Homo sapiens: one gene and its partner. The protein of the gene in region 1 purifies or fractionates together with the protein of each later gene. This does not show direct contact. Each region holds a gene or a part of one and is shown in the gene's direction. Other genes may lie near its edges.

Region 1 (3,652 bases):
GCCCCTCCGCTGCGCGCCCGCGATTGGCTGTCCCGGGTCACGTGTGAAGCCCCGCCCCCGTGGGAACCGTCCTGGTCGTTGGGGGGGGGGGCAGCTCCCATGTGGGCGTGGCCTTGAGGCCCCGGGGGTGTAGCTGAGGGGCAGGCGCTTGCTTTTCTCTTTAAACAGATTGCGGTAAAGAAATAGAAAAGGCGCCCCGCGGGACCCCGGGCCTCTCCAGGGTCCATCTTTTTTTTGTTTTTCTTTTGAGCCAGGGTCTGGCTCTGTCTCCCAGGCTGGAGTGCCGTGGCTCGATCTTGGCTCACTGCAACCTCTGCCTCCTGGACTCAGCTGATCCTCGTGCCTCAGCCTCCGGAGTACCCAAGCGATCCATATGCCTAGGCTTCCCAGAGTCCTGAGATTACAGGCCTGAGGCACCATGCCCAGCCTCTAGGCCCATTTTCATTGGGAAAAAAAAATACACGTGGCCTGCAGCTGTGTAGCCACAGAACGAGTGGCCATCTGCCAGCCCACCCCTGTCCAGAAGAGCGCTCCTGCACTGTGGCCCTGCAGCCACCCTGGGTCTCGTTCTCAGAAAAAACAGGCTTGCCCCATTCCTGTGGTGCCACTTTTCCAGATTGACACACAGACACAGGTTTGTCCTTTTTTTTTTTTTTTTGACAGGGCCTCACTCTGTCGCCCAGGCTGGAGTGCAGTGGTGTGATCTTGGCTCAGTGCAACCTCAACCTCCTGAGCTCAAGTGATCCTCCCACCTCAGCCTCCAAAGTAGCTGGGACCATAGGCGCACACCACCACGCCCAGCTGAATTTTTGTATTTTTTGTAGGGGTGGGGTCTTGCTGGTTTCGAACTCCTGGGCTCAAGTAATCCACCCACCTCTCCTCCCAAAGTGCTGGGATTACAGGAATGAGCCACTGCGCCCGGCCTCTGTCTTCTTTCCAGAGCTCTGTTTGGCGGTGTCACCTGACAGACCTGACACTTCCCGCTTGCCCTGTGCGCCTCCCCAGGCCTCTGTCGTCCGGCAGGTGCAGAACTCCTGTCTGGATGGGTCCGGGGTGTGCCTAGCTGGGTCTCCACTGTGCATTCTGTGAGTAACTGGTGGGAGGAGAAACTTTTCCAAGTATCCATTTCTAAGATTAACTGTTGCTGCTTGTATCTGGCGGGTCTGGAGTCTGATCTTTTTTTTTTCTTTCTTTCTTTTTTTTGAGATCGAGTCTCCCTCTGTCACCCAGGCTGGAGTGCAGTGACACGATCTCGGCTCACTGCAGCATCCACCTCCCGGGTTCAAGTGATTCTCCTGCCTCAACCTCCCGAGTAGCTGGGATTACAGGCGTGCGCCACCATGCCCAACTAATTTTTGTGTATGTGTGTATTTTTAGTAGAGATGGGGTTTCACCATGTTGGCCAGGCTGATCTCTTAACTCCTGACCTCAGGTGGTCCACCTGCCTCAGCCTCCCAAAGTTCTGGAATGACAGGCGTGAGCCACTGTGCCCGGCCAGGAGTCTGATCTTTCTATTAAAAGATCCTCTTGCAATATTTAATTTTAAAATGTTGAATGCCTTAGGACCTAAGGCGTAGGTGAAAGTTCCACTCACTTCAGGGTGTGTAGAATTTGCTGTTTAAACTGATCTCATGATGAGCTTGGGCTTTGGGAGCAAGAGGAAAGCCCACGGCCGGCCTGGGACGTGCGAGCAGTCTTTAAAACTCAGAGGCATCCGGGTGCAGTGGCTCATACCTGCAGTCCAAATACTTCAGGAGGCCTAGGCAAGTGGATCGCTTGAGCCCAGGAGTTTGGGACCAGCCTGGGAAACAGCAAGATTCTGTCTCTACAAAAAAATTAGGCCGGGCGCGGTGGCTCACGCCTGTAATCCCAGCACTTTGGGATGCCAAGGCAGGCGGATCACCTGATGTCAGGAGTTCAAGACCAGCCTGGTCAACATGGTGAAACCCTGTCTCTACTAAATATACAAAAATTAGCCAGGCATGGTGGCAGGTGCCTGTAATCCCAGTTACTCGGGAGGCTGAGGCAGGAGAATCGCTTAAACGCAGGAGGCAGAGGTTGCAGTGAGCTGAGATTGTGCCACTGCACTCCGGCCTGGGCAACAGTGAGACTCTGTCTCAAAAAAAAAAAAAATTAGCAATATAGCCCGGCATGGGAGTACGCCTGTTCCTCCCATCACCCCCAGCTGTTTCAGTGCTGTGCTCTGGGCCCCCCACCTATGCCTGCGTCCTTAAGCTGGAAGGGAGTCGTGTACACTGCCTGTCTCCTAAGCCCGGTGGTTCTCGCACGTTCCCTGGGAACCAGCCGGCAGTGCAGATCCACGGGCCTCGTCCACACCAGCTGGGGGGACCACATGGGCCACGGGCCTCCTAGGTGATTTTGATGCATGTGGCTCGCAGTCTCGAGAATGTGTTAAGGGGGTCTGGTGGACCCTCCTTGGGTTCAGGTGAGAGCTTCCTGAGGGAAGGGCAGCTTCTTGCACTCCAGGATCTGGCTGCCTCCTATCCTCTGGTCTCGGTGGGTCCAGGGCATTGGAGCGTGAGGCAGAGCGGTGCCCATGTGCTGGGTGTAATCACGTGGCTCTGCTCACTGATTGTCTCGGATGAGTTTGAGAACCGTGTTTGTCACCCGACCCCCGGGGGCTCGTGCGTCCCCTCCTTGGGCATCCGTGAGCAATGGCTCTGTGCTTTCTCTTAGGTATTCCCTCTCACCTCCTAGGTGTCCGTAAGAGTAAGGCATTTTCTTAAAACTTTTTCCAGTTTCTTTTTTTTTTTTGAGATGGAGTTTTGCCCTTGTCACCCAGCCTGGAGTACAGTGGCGCGATCTCGGTTCACTGCAACCCCCGCCTCCCGGGTTCAAGTAATTCCCTGCCTCAGCCTCCCGAGTAGCTGGGATTATAAGCGCCTGCTATCATGCCCGGCTAAATTTTGTATTTTTAGTAGACCAGCCAGGCTGGTCTTGAACTCTTGAGCTCGTGATCCACCCGCCTTGGCCTTCCAAAGTTCTGGGATCACAGGCGTGAGCCACTGTACCCAGCTGCCTGGCTGGCTGCCTGCCTTCCTTCCTTTCTCCCTCCCTCCCTCCCTGTCTTTCTTTCCTCTCCCTCCCTCCCTTCCTTCCTCGCCTCCTTTTTTTTTTTTTTTTTTTTTTTTTTTTTGAGACAGGGTCTTGCTCTGTTGCCCATGCTGAAGTGTGGTGGCACAATCACGACTCACTGCAGCCTTGGCCTTTTGGGCTTTAAGCGATCCTCCCTCCTCAGCCTCCCAAGTAGCTGGGACCACAGGTGTCCACCACCACGCCGGGCTAATTTTTAAATTTGTTGTAGAGATGGGGACTCACCATGTTGCCCAGGCTAGTCTTGAACCCCTAGCCTCAAGCAATCCTCCTGTCTCTGCCCCCCAAAGTGCTGGGATTACAGATGTCAGCCAGTGTGCCAGTCCTTCCTTCTAAGTCTGAAAAATACCCCACTGTGTGGCTGGAAGCCCGCGTTTACCCCATTGTGTGGATAGAAGCCCACGTTTACCCTGTCTTGTGGACGGAAGCCTGCGTGTACCCCGTCACGTGGATGGAAGCCCGCATTAACCATGTTGTGTGGATGGAAGCCCGCGCTTTCCTTATTGACTCCATTGGCGCCCACTTGGGTGGTTTCTGC
Region 2 (3,652 bases), on another chromosome or scaffold:
ACAGAGAGTGCAAATGAAATTTTTTCCAGTGGCTCCTGGATCCTTGAACGGACTTCCTAACATGCCCCGAGGCCAGAGTAGATGTGGCATGTGAGACCCTTTTATTTTCAATGCCGTAGAGCAGAGGTGGGGAGTATTTCAAGAAGTTCTTGTCATCCTTCCCCCTTTTGGCATAAAGGCCCCCAAGGTTATCTGTCTTTGGCTGTTAACATGCCCCATCCATTTACCCAACATACACTTATAAAGTGCTTTCCACATCCCAGACACTGTGCTAGTCACTGAGTCTACAAGGATGACTAAGACATGGTTCTTGCCCTCAAGGAGGAAGGGGGTCATGCAAGTAAATGCAAACGAAGGGCTCCCCCTAAGTACTGTAGATGGAACATACATACCTTTCCATCGGGTAAGGAGCAGGTTGATCCTTACTACTGAGTGCTGAAGACCCATAGTCTGACTGATGGCAGTGAGCAGCACATTCTGAATATGAGGCCACTTAGGATTATGTGTTCTCCTGATGGTAGTTTTTAACATGGGGAAGCACCCTGGGTTCCACACAGAGCAGAAATGTTGCTGTTATACGTTGCCTGGGCAGATTCTGGGCATTCTGACTCTTTCCTAATTATTTAAACTGTGATGCTTCCATATACACTAGGATGACATCTTTCCTTTATTAACATTAAGATGTTATCAAATAATGGAGGGGGATCATGTTGTAACTTTTAAGAGCTCGGTGAATAATAAGACATTGAACTTCTTTTAAAAAATTACGAGTAAGATATAATTCTGGTTCCTAAATTAGATGTGGTGATGGCTGAGCATTTTGAGGACAAGGATAGTTAACAGTAATTTTGGTTGTGGTGTAATTCTGGGCTATCAGTCCCCAAGACAGACTTTTGATTTTTATGATGGGACTTGTCACAAGAGAGCTTGTGACAAGATCAGTGGTGTTGGTTAAGTCTCTATATGCTAAACATAAACTTTTGAGCAGGAAGTCCTGCGTGAATACAGTACAGGCTGGTTTTGAGTGTATGTGGCTTTGTTACTTGAATTTGGATGGACCCATTATGTAAGCCCAGCAGCCCTTTTTGGAAAAGTGAATTGAAGCCAAGTTTTTAATATGCTTGAACTTAAAATACATGCTTTATTGACAACAGCTAGTAATTCATCATTATCCTGAAAGGACAGCTTGTGTACTAAATATTGATTTTTCTTTTTATATTTATCCAAATGATAAAATCTTTGCTTATAATTGGTAGATGAAACATTTTTATCTCCTTGGAGATGAAATGTGATTTCCATGATGGCCACTCAGAGCCTTGTGTCTTCTGTGCACAGGGAGACTCATGCATCTGTATGCCGTGTGCGTGGACTGCCTGGAAGGGGTTCACAAGATCATCTGCATCAAGTGTAAGTCACGGTGGGATGGCAGCTGGCACCAGCTGGGCACTATGTACACCTACGACATCCTGGCTGCCTCTCCATGTTGTCAGGTAGGTACTGAACACACTGAGGGAGCAGTGGGTGATATTAGGCTTCTGTCCCCAAGTGAATGTAGGGAAGATGCGTCTGGCAATAAAGAAGAAATTCAGTCCAGCAATGATGGCTGAGTTACTACTTGTAATGTAGTCATTTAGTGGAATACTATTCAGTCATTAAAAGGAATACTGTAGAATAATATATAATTATGTGGGAAGCATTTCCAGTATATTAGGTCAAAAGAACAGGTTATAAAATGGTATAATAATATGCTTGCATTTGTAAGTAAGTGAGCATGAAAAGGGAATTGCTAACCTGTTACCAGATGGTCTCAGTGGTGGGAGGCTGAATGGTTCCTTTAGTTTTCTTTTTCCTTGAGTATATTTTCTAAGATTCTGTATGATTAGCTTATAGTAAATTTCTAATAGAAAAAATGTTATTCAAAAGGAAGAAAGTCACTTTCTTAAATAGGATTTTCTTGTTTTCTTTCTGTGGGATAGTACAGTTATCCAGGAATTGCATGCCTTGTAAGGTGTTTGAGGTTGTAATCCTTAAAGCACTACTAAAAGGAGGCATTGTCTCATGCTATGAGGACATCTGAAATTTAGCTGTCATCAGAAAAAGAGGGAAGTATTCACATATGAAAACACAAATAACCTATAGAATCACAGGAGACAAAATGCTTGGAAATATCTTGCTTTATTTCCAAGTGCTTGGGGAAGAAAACAGCTTGTTAGGTAATTCCTTGATACTCTCATGGGCAGGAGAGAAATTTTTCTTTGCTCTAAAGTGTTCCAGCCTGGTTTTTTAGTACAAATAGCTGATACATACTTCATTAGTTACTGCATAGTTTTATGTCTTTAGCATTATGGCTTGATTTTTGTAAAGAGAGTATCTTTACTATTATCAGTAGTTATTCACTGTGGCATTTTATGATAGTTATTGTGCCTTGATGCCAGCTCTTGAGAGAAACCAGAGGAAGTGGCTCCCCTCTGCACACACACACCGTGGAGGATTATCTTTTAAATTGAAGAAATAAGGAAGTGAAAGAACTTTTGAGCCTGTTAACTCAGAAGATTAGCACTGGAAAGGACCTGGGATCTAGACCGACCTCCTTATTTCCTCATACAATGGAGGCCTACAAACTTGGGATGTTTTACCCAGGTCTACATACATTGTGTCACAGCCATGACTGCACCGTGTGACTCCTGTTCTGGTGTTCTTTCTGGTACACCATTGAAAGGCAATGAGATTATTTCCATGTCTTTAGGAGGAAAAACAGAACAGCATCCTGCCACACCCAGCCTCTTGGTATTCACCATGCACTGTATTTCTTCCTTAAAACAATTGAAGCCCAGACCTTTCTTTTCTGGCCCCCTACTGAAATGGAAAATATGTTCGATTATTGTTAATTTAAAAAAATCAGTGAGGATACAAGTGTTAGACGCTACTAATGAATCAAGGGAAGTCTTCAATAAGATGTAGCCAAAAATAAGCAATAATTGATTCTTAGAAAGGTATAACAGTGTGAAGACGGGTTTGCTCAGAATCACACTTTTAATGTTGTTCAGAGAGATTACGTAGTTAAAAGAGTGTTTATCTCAGGTTACAGAAAAGTAGTTCCTGCAGTGGCTGAGGATCAGCAGGCTGCTTTGGTTCACTCCAGCCTTGCTGCTTTCTAACCATGGTCTTTGGCATGGTGCTTTATCACATGTGCCTCAGTTGCATTATCTAAAAGTCAGCTAATACTACCTACCTCCCAGGAGTATTTTGAGAACAAGTTGAGATTATACTTTTTAAGTACATTTTTAAAATGAGTCTAAATTGAGTCTGTTTTATTTATAATTTGTGGTTATTCACTTAAGTCCTGGACCCATTGCTGAAAGGTTCCAGGACTGTGCTGTTACGGAGAGGCTAGGCATGAGTGAAGATGCAGGGTGCTGGGAACTCCAGAAGCCTCAGACCAGCACCGCACTTCCTGGATTGCTAATTTTACTTGAGTATCTTGGGAAATTTTATTTTTACATCAAAGAAAACGCAACTTTTCTATAGAGTAGAATGAAAAATGAAATTTCAAAGAAGTTTCGTGGAGGTTTGGGTGAGGGAAGTCAGCTTCAGCCGCTGTCTTAAAATCCAGGGGGAGGGGTTTCTTATTGTTAGGGAACTTCAGTGGAGA

What was found. The genes of interacting proteins can lie anywhere in the genome.
Region 2: the proteins of UNKL (region 1) and HECA purify together in Homo sapiens (affinity purification with mass spectrometry, with the first as the bait; one large-scale study listed by BioGRID). This does not show direct contact.

What each region holds. Positions count from the first base shown.
Region 1 is NC_000016.10:1,404,700-1,408,351, reverse strand, and holds part of UNKL (putative E3 ubiquitin-protein ligase UNKL), read left to right. Parts: intron 1-3,652. UniProt on the Homo sapiens protein: May participate in a protein complex showing an E3 ligase activity regulated by RAC1. Ubiquitination is directed towards itself and possibly other substrates, such as SMARCD2/BAF60b. Intrinsic E3 ligase activity has not been proven.
Region 2 is NC_000006.12:139,173,050-139,176,701, forward strand, and holds part of HECA (headcase protein homolog), read left to right. Parts: intron 1-1,335; coding exon 1,336-1,490; intron 1,491-3,652. UniProt on the Homo sapiens protein: May play an important role in some human cancers. May be part of the regulatory mechanism in the development of epithelial tube networks such as the circulatory system and lungs.